Linked DNA regions of Homo sapiens: regions 2 and 3 are each reported to be linked to region 1. Evidence: microRNA targets listed by miRTarBase, many of them from high-throughput screens and not tested one by one. Region 1 holds a microRNA gene; each other region holds the end of a gene's coding sequence.
What was found. The annotated mature microRNA hsa-miR-3943 reads UAGCCCCCAGGCUUCACUUGGCG and lies in region 1 at 1,478-1,500, opposite strand. An mRNA with a match to its seed (bases 2 to 7 or 8) in the 3' UTR can be bound and repressed. Matches are read on the target gene's strand: a 7mer-m8 pairs with bases 2 to 8, a 7mer-A1 pairs with bases 2 to 7 and ends in A, and an 8mer does both.

Region 1 (4,212 bases):
CGATTTTATTAATTTATGCCTCTTATTATTAGGACTTTTTTGTTCACAGTTGTATTCCCAAAATACATAGTTTCAAAATACATTTTGGCTTACCTGTGAGATTACTGCTTTCAATGCTTATAACTGTCTCACGTATGTACTATCTTTCACTTGTATTTGTTCTGTATTCTGATGGGTTTTAATGAGTGGTATAGGTCCTTGAACATTTTTTTTCCCAGAAATTATGCATTAACAGAATATTTCCTAAGTATTTTCACATCTCAAAGTATATTTCATTTGTAGCTATACAAATACTAGTTTGTCTACACAAAGGAATCCAGGTTCACAATCTTGGTGAATCTTGCTCCTTTGTCATCAGGCAATTAGTGTGGTAAATGAGCTGTTTGATGACACTTTAGGTTGATCTCTCCCATCTTTTTTTTAGTTTAGAGATCTATAGAATTTATGTCTTTACTCATGAAATTAGAACATATTATTAGGATATGTATATGTATGTGTCTTTTTCAATATCTTGTATGGGTTTGGGAGAAATTTTCACCAGCAACCTCAAATCTTTCTTTAGCCTAGGTAAATTTTCTCTTATATATCTTTAAATATTATCCCTTCTCCATCTGTTCCAATTAGAGTGAAGAGAATAAACATATGTTGGATACACTAAATCTATCCTCTCAGTCACTTCTATCTTGTAATTCCTATTTATATTTTCATTCTATGTTCTGTGAAAACCCCTCAAGTTAGTTTCTAAATCCCTAATTCAATTTTTAGCAATGTTTATTTGGTATTTGTTGCCAATATCAGTGGGGCTCCTTCAGCAATCACATTTTAAATTTCCTTTTTCAAAGCAGCCTACTTTTTTGGCACAATATCCCCCACAACTCTCCTTGAGATTGCTAATTGAGATGTTCTTCAATTTTTATTTTAAAAATTAATTCTGTTTTATGCATTTTCCCAAACACTTCACATCTTCCCCCAACCCATCTGATCTGCTGCTTTTCTTAAAGTGTCTTCAGTTAAAATCCTTCATTGTCTGTCCATGTTTATCAAAGAAAAGTGTAAATCAATCATTTTTACAAGGTTTACTAAGTACTTTCTGTGCCCCAGGCAGAATACTAAAGAATGGAAACTCTAAGTCAAGGAAACCCCAAAAATAATCTTATGAGATCATGTTATCCTCCCTGAGTGTCACCTGGGGAAGAAAAGGTGTAGCCAGCTGCACCCAGTTGGGAATTTTTTCCAAATTACTGAGATCTTTCTGCCTCTTGGCTCCACTCACTTCTCCAGCCTCTGTCTTGGGACCACGGGACCATCTCTGCAGTCAGGGCTGTAGGTGCCAGGAGAAGTCAGGAAAGGGCACATGAACTGATTTTTCTGTTTCTTTTTTTCTTGTATTTGCTGTGCAAGCCCGGAGTTAGCTGGAGGCCTGTCCAGGTAGGAGCCAGCCGTGGCCCACCCCCCACTTTACTTAGCAAGTTGTCCACGCCAAGTGAAGCCTGGGGGCTAGGCCGCAGCTGCCGTCTGTGTGGGGGGGCGCTGATAAAGATGCTGAAGTCCTTCATCACCCGCTCCCTGGCCCATGGACCTTCCCAGCCACAGCTGTTCTGAGCCAAGAATGTGGCAGGTGTCAACTTGGGACTCCTATCTTCTCTGGATGCCCTGCTGTGCCTGTACTGGGCGGAGGATCACAAAGCACTGACTGGTTTCTTTGCCATTGTGACGCCATCTTTAAAATGCTGATCCAGGCCTGATGCAGTGGCTCATGCCTGTAATCCCAGCACTTTGGGAGGCCAAGGCAGGTGGATCACTTGAGGTCAGGAGTTCAAAACAAGCCTGGCCAGAATGGTGAAACCCCATCTTTACTGAAAATACAAAAATTAGCCAGGCATGATGGCAGGTGCCTATAATCCCAGCTACTCAGGAGGCTGAGGCATAAGAATCACTTGAACCCAGGAAGCAGAGGTTGCACCGAGCTGACATTGCACCACTGCACTCCTGTCTGGGTGGCAGAGTGAGACTCAATCTAAAATAAAATAAAATAAAATGAAATAAAATGCTGGTTCAGTGACGGTAGCCTTCCAATGTTAAAGCAAATCTAACTGAAATCAATTGGTCAGAGGAATACACAGTGTTATAGACAGCGTAACTAAAAGCTTTCTTAGAAAGTTAAGTAACCTTGGTTCAAATCCTGGTTTCACAAATTACTATGTGAACTTCAGCAAGTTATTTTACTTCTCTATTTCCTTTTCTGTAAAATAGTGAAAATAATAGGGTTATTGGGCAGAACAATGAAGTAAGACACTTAAAACAATTCAGCACAGTGCCTGATTTGCAGTAAGTACAATAAATGTTAGTTATCATCATTTTTAACCATAAGATATATTGCACTGCAAGAAGATATCATGAGATAATATTAGACAAACCCAAAATAAGGGACATTCTATGAAATAGAATTGCATTGCATTCAGCAATGCCAAAAGATATCTATGACCACTACAGTAATTCAAAATTGTTTGAGTTTTACTTTTTTTGATGAAAAAAGAAGTAAAAATAGTAGAAAATTAAAAGTAAAATCATCATTATTTGCAAATCATGCAATATATAAAGTCTAAATAAACCCTATTGTATGAGTGTGTTAATGTATAAAATATGTCTGAAAAAAATTTTGAAGAATATATCTGTAAATATTTTTATTTTAACTTTTAATTTTTGAATAATTTTAGGCTTATAGAAAAGTTGCAAAAATAGGGCAGAGTTACCATTTATCTTCCACCAAGCATCCTCTTAAGTTAATATCTAATCTTACATCATCATGATACATTTGTCAAAATTAAGTATTGGTACAGTACTATAAACTACTGACATTTGCATGTTTTACCAACATCACTTTTCTGTTCCAAGATTCAATCCAAGATCCCACATTATACTGTTATGTCTCCTTGCTCTCCTCTAATCCATGAGAATTCCTCAGCCTTTCCTTGTCTCTCAGGATGTGGACATTTCAAAAAATTCTGGACAGTTATTTTGTAGCATGACCCTTATTTTGGGTTTATCTAATATTCTCTCATGATTAGACTGAGGTTGTGTGTTCTGGATAAGAATACACAGAAGTGATGTGTCTTTCTCAGTGCATCATATCTGGAGGTGATATCGATATGTCAACATGATGACAATATGTTTTATTACTGGTGATAATTGACTTTGATCACATGGTTAAGGGGGTCGCTGCTCTAACCTCATTATTTTTTCTTTGTAATCAATACGTATTTAAGGGGGAGATACATTGATACTATGCAAATATTGTATTTCTCCTAAAACTTTTTAGCTTCTAATTTTAGCATTCATCTGTGGATTTTATTTGCCACAATTATTACAGGGGTGTTCTGATGGTAATTTTGTATTTCCTTAATTTCTTCTATGTTTATCAATTGGAATTCTTCTGTAGGGAAGAACTGTCCCTACATTTTTGAGACTCATTTACTTTCAGGGCTGAAGAAGACATTGGAGTCTTCTGAGATTTCAGTTTGCCAGCAGTGTAGACATCACCTGAGAGCTTCTTAGAAATGCAAAATCTCAGGCCCTATCCCAGACCTACTAGATCAGAATCTGTATTTTAGCAAGATCCTTGAGGTACTCATGTTCTTCAAAAGTCACTTTAGTTCCATGTCATCAAGGGACTTGATCAATTGAGTGTAAACTTGAAGTTAGCAGCAGAGCCAGACCACACCTCAGTCTCCTGACTCCCAATGCACTCTTCTTTTCTTATTTGATTGATCCATTCTCTAGAGAAATCCAAAGAGTACAGGCTTTGGACTCAGACCCAAATTTAAGTATCCAACACTGTTTACCTAGCAAGCTACTTAACCTCTCTGAACCTGAGTTTCTGCATATGTAAAGGGCAGGGCAAATATTAGCTAACTTTAAGGATCACAGTGAAGACAAGAGCTACTAGATGGAAAGCATCTGGCAGAATGGCTTGGGCATGAGGACACAGAGACATGCAGGCACATCCTCTTCCAGGAGGGACTGCAGCCAGGTGCTGGGAGTGCTGTCAGCACATGCCTTCAGCTGCTAGCCTCTTCAAGCCTCACCCAAGGTCATGCCTTTTCAGTGGTGACTCACATCCAAAGACAGGGATGTGGAGGCCCAGGCATTTTGGCCAGACACAGAATGGGACAACCTTGATGTCCATTTCAGCTCCAGAACTCTTTGAGGTCT
Region 2 (4,201 bases), not on the chromosome of region 1:
GAAGGTTGGTTTCTTACTTTGTAAAAGGGTTGAGCTTGGAGTTTGATGCACCAATGAGTTGGCTTGAACTAAGTGCTTTGATAAAAGGTGTTTGGTGTCTTTTTGTCATCCATTTTGGGGCTTAACATATTAAATGAAAGGTATATTTTAAGATGGAATATTCAGTAATTCCCAGCATAATTGCACAGTCCTTGGAAGTCCAGTAGGCAGCTTGTTAGGTTCTACAAGGGACCCAGGAGATTTGATGATGATGTCTCAGAACTTAAATTGTGTGGTTCCCACAGGCTGTAATATATGCACTGAGGTTGTGTTGGGCCTCTTTGAGGTGGGGGCTGGGGGTCGTGACTTGACAGGCTTTTTTTTTTTTTTTTTTTTTTGACTGATGACACCTTACCCTTCCTTTACAGGATAAGCACATTGAAGAAGTGCGGAAGAACAAAGAATCCAAAGACCCTGCTGACGAGACTGAAGCTGACTAATTTGTTCTGAGAACTGACTTTCTCCCCATCCCCTTCCTAAATATCCAAAGACTGTACTGGCCAGTGTCATTTTATTTTTTCCCTCCTGACAAATATTTTAGAAGCTAATGTAGGACTGTATAGGTAGATCCAGATCCAGACTGTAAGATGTTGTTTTAGGGGCTAAAGGGGAGAAACTGAAAGTGTTTTACTCTTTTTCTAAAGTGTTGGTCTTTCTAATGTAGCTATTTTTCTTGTTGCATCTTTTCTACTTCAGTACACTTGGTGTACTGGGTTAATGGCTAGTACTGTATTGGCTCTGTGAAAACATATTTGTGAAAAGAGTATGTAGTGGCTTCTTTTGAACTGTTAGATGCTGAATATCTGTTCACTTTTCAATCCCAATTCTGTCCCAATCTTACCAGATGCTACTGGACTTGAATGGTTAATAAAACTGCACAGTGCTGTTGGTGGCAGTGACTTCTTTTGAGTTAGGTTAATAAATCAAGCCATAGAGCCCCTCCTGGTTGATACTTGTTCCAGATGGGGCCTTTGGGGCTGGTAGAAATACCCAACGCACAAATGACCGCACGTTCTCTGCCCCGTTTCTTGCCCCAGTGTGGTTTGCATTGTCTCCTTCCACAATGACTGCTTTGTTTGGATGCCTCAGCCCAGGTCAGCTGTTACTTTCTTTCAGATGTTTATTTGCAAACAACCATTTTTTGTTCTGTGTCCCTTTTAAAAGGCAGATTAAAAGCACAAGCGTGTTTCTAGAGAACAGTTGAGAGAGAATCTCAAGATTCTACTTGGTGGTTTGCTTGCTCTACGTTACAGGTGGGGCATGTCCTCATCCTTTCCTGCCATAAAAGCTATGACACGAGAATCAGAATATTAATAAAACTTTATGTACTGCTGTAGCAACTCCTGTGAAATGACTAAAGGGAACCTTAATTATTTCTAAAGTAGCATTTGACTCGGGTGGTTAAGGTTGGCAGATACGTCATCTTGTATCCAGAGGCTGTAATAGTCCCCATTGTCAGTGCTTTGCCTCTCAATTCAGGGAACGCCTTTGGCAGCTTTCCTGTGCTATTTGAGAAATAGCCTAATTATACATATTTTGTGCCTCTCAGACATCTGTATAAAAGCTCTTGGAAGCCAAGCACTTATAGCAAAAGATGATTGCTAATACTGCGGTGGGGTCCATGTGTTGCTAACGCATGTGCCTCTGCTGCTTGGGCTGTATCTTGAGATTGGGGTTTTACCAAACTTATTCATGAGAACAATAACAGCCTACCTCAACTTACCTCCTAAGATTGTTAGGATTAAATGGGTTTGTGGCAAGAGAGCACACTTAGAACATAGATATTTAGCATTCCGTATAAATCACGATTACTGTTTTCAACCAGAGGCTAATGAGTGATCTAAGTTTATACTCTTGAGTTGGAAATTATGCAGTTTTTATATTCCTTAAATTGACTTTTAAATTTACTTAAATGATCAATCAGAGGAATTCTGAACAAAGCTTGGTTTAAGGAGTTACGCCCATGTAGGGCAAATAGGAGCAAGTGCAAGTATAGTTGAATACAACAATAGGTTCTGAGCAATATCTAAACCAAGAGGACAGGATGAGGCTTGTGTGCAGTGGTGCAGCACAGTTCATCTTGGCTCCTGTCTCTGGCACATAGCAGGTGCTCTGGGATCTTTAAAATACCAGTTCTGAATAGATGGGAATATAAAGAGGGCCTGAGGGTAGAAACTTGGCATAATGATACGAGGTGTCCTACAAGTGGCAGTGAGCTTTTGTTCATCTAAGACATTTAGGGAGGGAAACTGGCCTCAGGAGAAAGCAAGGGAAGGATCAACAGGCCTGAAAGGATGCCTCATCAGTTACCACCCATCCCATGGTGGCCCTGACTTCCTATCAGAGGGCGATCCTGAGCCCCTGCCTTGTGACAGGCTTAAGTCACAGGAAACTGAAGGGGATGCATCTTACCACAGAAATAGAAGCTCTGGCTTTTCTATTTCACCTTGACCTTTGGAGAAGCACTTAGTCCTGGGCCCCCATTTTCTCCTGGATAAAATGAGATGGTTGGGGGAGATCAGTTAAGTAACTTTCACTCCCCCATTCTTTGCATCTGGCTTGGAGTGAAGAGGAGGAGCGGTGGCACCTACGAGCTTCTGGGGAAGTGTCTCTGGGTATGCATTCCCGGGCCCGGCATTCTCTGCCATCACGGGAGTCTGCGTCTGTCCCAGTGGGGCCAGCCTCTCCCAGCAGTACTTCCAATAGATTGGCCTAATAAGGCCAGAGTGGTTTGACAAGCAGTTGGGGCTGTCACCAAGGAGCAGACTCCATTCCTTTTGTCTTGAATGGAAAATGAGGCTTGTCCCTTCCTGAGGATTTTGTACTTGGGCCTTATGGTTGACTGGGCTCAGTGGAGAGAGGTTTGAAGGACGTGAAGGAGGCCCTTAAATTAACATTTGACAAGCACCTAGATTGTGCTCCACACTGGCCTTTGCGCTAGGGATGGAGAAAAGATGGGGTGGGACCAGCATATCACGTGCCCATGTGAGGGGAAGGAGAGCTGTAGAATGCTTACTTACCTGAGGGTGAGGCTCTCGACCACATACTTGTACTCACCAGGGTGCTTTAGTGCTTTGGTGAAAGGAGTGACCACAGAGGGCTTTGTGGTCTGGGAAGCTTTGAGAGGAGAAAGGACATGAGCTTGTCCTTTTGGAAGTCAGATGAACCTTCCAAGCCAAACCCCAATAAAGCACTTAATTGTTAAACACTTAGTAAGCCTGTGATTGCCACGTGCACAGAGAACCTGCCATAGTTAATGGCCTTTGGCAGGCCCTCCAGGCAGGCCCCCTCCCCATTTTTTTATTCTAAGCAGTGGAGGCTCTTTGAAGGCTTTTGAATGTGGGGGGCTGCAGTGGTCAGTAACAAAACCATTTTAAGGAAGAGAAAGTGGAGGCAGGGTGAGTTGACTGGAGAGTGGCTGCCGTTCAGGCTACGGTGGCCATGGTGGCTGTTGGGGCAGCACAGGGATGAGGTGGGAGGGCCTGCTGGGCTCTGGAGCAATCCATGTGACTGACACTGCACTGAGGAACTGGGACATGTGCTCTAAACTTGGGAAGCTGGAGGAGAAAGAAATCACTCCACTTGGGAAAATGGCAGTGCTACTATTTACTGAGCACTTAACGTCCAGGCATCGTGTTCATTTTCTCCACCATAGAGAAGTGAACAGGCAGAGTAACGTACCCAAGGTCCTAAGCTAGTAGGAGAAGCTTACCCAGGCAGATCTGCTCTAAGCCCTGCACAGGAAGGGGGGCTGCTCTGACAGCTCAGCATCCCCTCGTTGCCCGGAACAATTCCCCTCTGCCTCAGACCTGCTCACAAGTCTCAGCAAATGAAAGCCCTACTATTCAGCCGTTCCCACCTCCTTAAAAAGGCAGGGCCTCTTATCCTTGCATGCCTTGGAGTGAGGTCTCATCCCCCACCCCCAGCACCTTTATAAAGGTGCTCCTGTCTACTCTGTATCATTCTCCCAGTGGAGAATTCTGATTTTCAGTGATGTTTTAGCTGTCCCGGTAAACCTGTGCACCCAGATGACAGTTTGGCTACCTTACTGCGAATTCATTTGTTTGAATCACTGTTAAATGTGGTTCATTTAGGAATACAGAAGATAAAGGCCAAATTTTTTCTTTTCTTTTTTTTTTTTTTTCGAGACAGTCTTGCTCTG
Region 3 (4,212 bases), not on the chromosome of region 1:
CTGAGGTGGAGAAGAGGCGGCGTTTGCTGGAGAGCTTACGTGGGCCTGCTCTGTCAATCATGCGGGTGCTCCAGGCCAACAATGACTCCATAACTGTGGAGCAGTGCCTTGACGCCCTAAAGCAGATCTTTGGGGATAAAGAGGACTTTAGAGCCTCTCAGTTTAGGTTTCTGCAGACCTCTCCGAAGATTGGAGAGAAAGTCTCCACTTTCCTGCTGCGCTTAGAGCCCCTGCTGCAGAAAGCCGTGCACAAGAGCCCCTTGTCAGTGCGCAGCACAGACATGATTCGTCTGAAACATCTCTTAGCTCGGGTCGCCATGACCCCCGCCCTCAGGGGCAAGCTGGAGCTCTTGGATCAGCGAGGGTGTCCTCCCAATTTTCTGGAGTTAATGAAGCTCATTCGAGATGAAGAAGAGTGGGAGAACACTGAGGCAGTGATGAAGAATAAGGAGAAGCCATCAGGGAGAGGCCGGGGGGCCTCCGGTAGACAGGCAAGAGCAGAAGCCAGTGTCTCTGCACCTCAGGCCACCGTGCAGGCAAGGTCTTTTAGCGACAGCAGCCCCCAGACCATACAGGGAGGCTTACCCCCATTAGTGAAACGCAGGCGGCTGTTAGGCAGTGAAAGCACTAGGGGAGAAGACCATGGCCAGGCCACGTATCCCAAGGCTGAAAACCAGACTCCAGGCAGGGAGGGGCCACAGGCTGCAGGAGAGGAGTTGGGAAACGAGGCAGGGGCTGGGGCCATGAGCCATCCCAAGCCCTGGGAAACATAGGCTCAGAAGACCGAAGCACTCCTTCCCCTGGCAGGCAGCAGGGACATTTGAACAAGGGGAAGGGGCAGCTTACACTAACAGGGAACTTGACTGGGGCAGAGGGACAGGGAAGCCAGGTCGAGATCAAGCCCCCTTACTTTCCACCAGCTGGAAGGGACTTCACCAACCAAGACCAAATAGCATCTGGTTCAGTGGGGGCCGGGCCCATAGCCCCTAACAGGTACAGGAGACACAAGCGGGGAACCACTACACTTAGCACATGGGGTGCCTGGGCTTCAGATGGGGACCCCAGCGAAGCAGGGGCTGAAGAAGGTGTGGCTGGGGGCTCTGGCCTGGTCCTCTGGACACCCCCAAATATCTACCCTGTGGACTTTGAGCTGAGCATGCCCACTGGCACCCAGGCCACGTGGGACCTGGAGGAGCCTGCCTGGGGCCTGCCTCTGCCAGAAGGAGCCAGGGCTGCTGAGGAAGAGCTGTGGGGCAGAAGTGAAGCCCCGCAGGGGAGGCCACAGGGTCCAGCCTGTCTTTAGGATCATCTACACTGCATGAGGGGAGCCCCAGGAAGGCAGCATTCATAAGCCCCTGCACCAGTGAGGAAGAGAAAGAGGAGGAGAATTAAGAAGAGGATGATCGGGAGGAGGAAGAGGAGAATAAGGAGGAGCAGGAGGAAGAGGGGGAGGAGAAGGAGGAAGAGGGGGAGGAGGAAGAGGGGAAGGAGGAGGAAGAAGTGTAAGAAGAGAAGAGAGGATGTGTTGGGGGTGGGTAGTTGTTTTTGGTTTGCGTCATCATCAGGCCCGGGCTCTGCTCACTGCTGTTCCGTGTCAAGAACTCCACCTCTGCTTTGCCGGTGTAGATCTCGGCCAGTGGCTGCTTGTTCTCTTGGGGATGTGTGTGTTTTTATCTGAGCAGCTCCTTTCCAGAGTACCCCAGCGCAGTTCCAGGAGACGGTGGGAAGGAGGCATGGCAGACGCTCACCTTGTGACTGTGACCTCGACTGCAGGAGGACCAACCAGACACGGGAAGGAGCAGGGCTGCCTGAGGCTCCCCAGGAAGCTTTGTGCTTTGGCGTTCCACCCCTGCTGTTACTCGTGACTCAGTTTCCTCAACTTGGTGGGGTGTTCCCTGCTATGTTTTCCAGCATCCTGTGACTGTCCTGTGCAGTCTATAGGGCAGGGCCCTGCCCCAGCGGGTGGGCTCAGGAGGGGGTTCCCTGAAGCGAGTACACATTGCCAGAGCCCACCATCCTGGCAAGAGGTGGATCCTGGGGCCCTATGGAAGGAGGGATGTGGTGGGGGGGGCCACACTGAGGGAGGGGCCGGGGACTTGTGACCTGTAGTGGCTGTTTGCAGTTTCTCTCTGTGTTAGATTCCCTTTTCTTCAGCAGTTTCAGTTCATGTTTCTCTTCAGTAAATTTTGTTCAGTGTTCCAGTGGTGTCTTGCCTCTGCTGTGTGAAACTGGGGTGGGAGGTGGTCTGCTGGGGATGGGGCCACAGTGGCCAGGCTGACATCGAGGTGTGTGTGGGGCAGGGTCTATGAGGGCCTGTGGGGTGCCTTGGGCTGCATGGAGCCTGGCAACAGGATGCTGGTGGTCATGAGCAGTGACTGGCTGGGTACCAAAGGCACTCCAGGTGTCCTCAGGAATAAGTGACTTGGACATTGAAGGCTGGGCAAGGGGCAGCAGGTGGGTCCCAGGCCCCTGATCCCTGGCAGCACTGTAGGGGTGTGGCTCAAGGCTTCCGGAAGGGTCAGAGAGGCCACGTGTGCAACCAAGGCCAGCAACCGAGGTCAGAGAAGAGCCCCAGGAGGGCCTGGACAGGCAGTCAGAGGCCCTGTGAAGAGCTGTGTGCAGGACTCGGGGTGGGGTAGGGGCTGGTGTGTGCCCATCCTCCCAGATCAGCCCGCAGGTGGCCAGCCTTGGCCTAGCCACTGAGGGATGTTTGGGGACAGTGTGTGTGTGATGGCCAAGGGGACAGAGTGTGGGCGAGAAAGGGATCCCAAGTGCTCATGTCTTGGGGAGGGGGAGAGGAAGGGCGGGGGAGCTGCACTTCATCCTGGGTCCTGTCCTGCTCCCTTCCCAGTGTACTGGGAGGCGCTCTACTCCTGTGTCCTGGGAGCAGGCAGTGGGCCATGAGCAGGAAGCCTAGATGGCCCTGGGGAGTGACCCCTTTCTGTCCTGCATCCCCGAGGCCCTCTGAGCCCTGGATGCTGCCTGAGGAGGGCTCCCTCAGGATGGACGGCGCTGCTAATCCAGACACCCCTCCTTCAGCACTGTGGCCAGAGGGGCAGTTCTTGGTGGGGGCCTGAGGATCCTGGAACCCGCCCTCCTGAGCCCTCCTGGGACTGGCTCTCTCTCCCAACAGGCCAGGGAGCTCGCCACAAATGGAGGGTAGTCCTCGATCAGCCATTTAACTAGCCCAGAGTCTGTGGGCGACAGAACTGGGACAAGTGATAGGCCCCTCCCTGCACATGTGTGGGGAGGGGACGGGATCATTGACTTGGACGTGGCGAGGGTCTCCCGGGGCTCACTCAGTCTGTGTCCACACACTTCCTCCGGCTGTTCTGGAGCACAGAGCCTCCGGCCATCCCCATGGCTCAGATGATAGCCAGGCTCCCCCAAAGCAGCCTCAGAGCCAATGCTGGGAATGGGTGGCTGCCCACCTGGGCTGAGGAATCCTGGATCTAGGCGACCTGTCTGCTTGAGCGGAGCTGCAGTCAGCAGGTCTGCAGGGCGGCAGGGGCCCTGGGAGACACTCGGCATACACAGGCCAGTGCAGGCATGGGAGGGGTAGTTTTGCGGGGCTGTCGGGGAGGGGCAGGGGGCGGCAGGTCTCTGGGGCTGGGCCTGCAGCCTCCCCGGCCTGAAGGTGCTTAACCGGTGTCTCAGGGACCCTTGTAGTGTGTCCCATCGGGGTGCCCTGCAGGCATGCCTGGGGCCCCCACTGTGCTCTGTTCTCCCTGCCTTCTTCAGGCTGGGCACAACCCCAGCATGTCCGTCCCTTGTGTCTCAGCAGGGCCAAGTCAACTGCTCACTTTCCAAGGGCCCCTCCAGATTTTGGGGACAGGGCAAGAGGAGAGGGCATAGAGCTTGGCTGACCTTGCCAGGGCCTGTCAGGGCTCCTTGGTTTTCCCTGTTCAGAGTGGACCTGTGTGTGCCGTGATTCCCAAGCAGGTGTGAGTGTGAGTGAGCGGGTGTGTTTGAGCGTGTGCGTGTGTGTGTCAGTGTGAGCATGTGCATGAGTTTCTGAGAATGTGTGTGAATCCAAGTGACAGAATGTGACTGCATCACTGAGCGTGTGTGAGTGGGAGGGTGTGGGGGAATGAGGCTGTGCCATTGAAGGTGAGCATGCATGTCGCTGAATGTGTGTGACACTGTGAGTGTGTCAGTGTGTGTCAGTGTGTGTGTGAGTTTGTGAGTCATTGTGCGTGCGTGCGCTGACTG

Region 2: the mRNA of STMN1 is a reported target of hsa-miR-3943. Seed matches in the 3' UTR shown: 7mer-A1 at 638-644.
Region 3: miRTarBase lists PNMA5 as a target of hsa-miR-3943. Seed matches in the 3' UTR shown: 7mer-m8 at 1,094-1,100.

What each region holds. Positions count from the first base shown.
Region 1 is chr7:43,148,205-43,152,416 of GRCh38, reverse strand. It overlaps MIR3943 (microRNA 3943), which reads right to left and starts at 1,522; the gene lies at 1,423-1,522. All of the region lies in intron 2 of HECW1 (HECT, C2 and WW domain containing E3 ubiquitin protein ligase 1), which reads right to left. It overlaps HECW1-IT1 (HECW1 intronic transcript 1), which reads right to left. Exons shown (of 7, transcript NR_135295.1): 5 at 3,590-3,776.
Region 2 is chr1:25,897,294-25,901,494 of GRCh38, reverse strand. It overlaps STMN1 (stathmin 1), which reads left to right. Exons shown (of 5, transcript NM_005563.4): 4 at 1-4; 5 at 408-1,379. The coding sequence ends at 479. Among named protein-coding and RNA genes, the nearest start is that of STMN1, 7.0 kb to the left of the region's middle.
Region 3 is chrX:152,986,813-152,991,024 of GRCh38, reverse strand. PNMA5 (PNMA family member 5) reads left to right here. Exons shown (of 4, transcript NM_001184924.2): 4 at 1-2,201. The coding sequence ends at 773. Among named protein-coding and RNA genes, the nearest start is that of PNMA5, 5.2 kb to the left of the region's middle. RefSeq lists an enhancer at 673-1,172.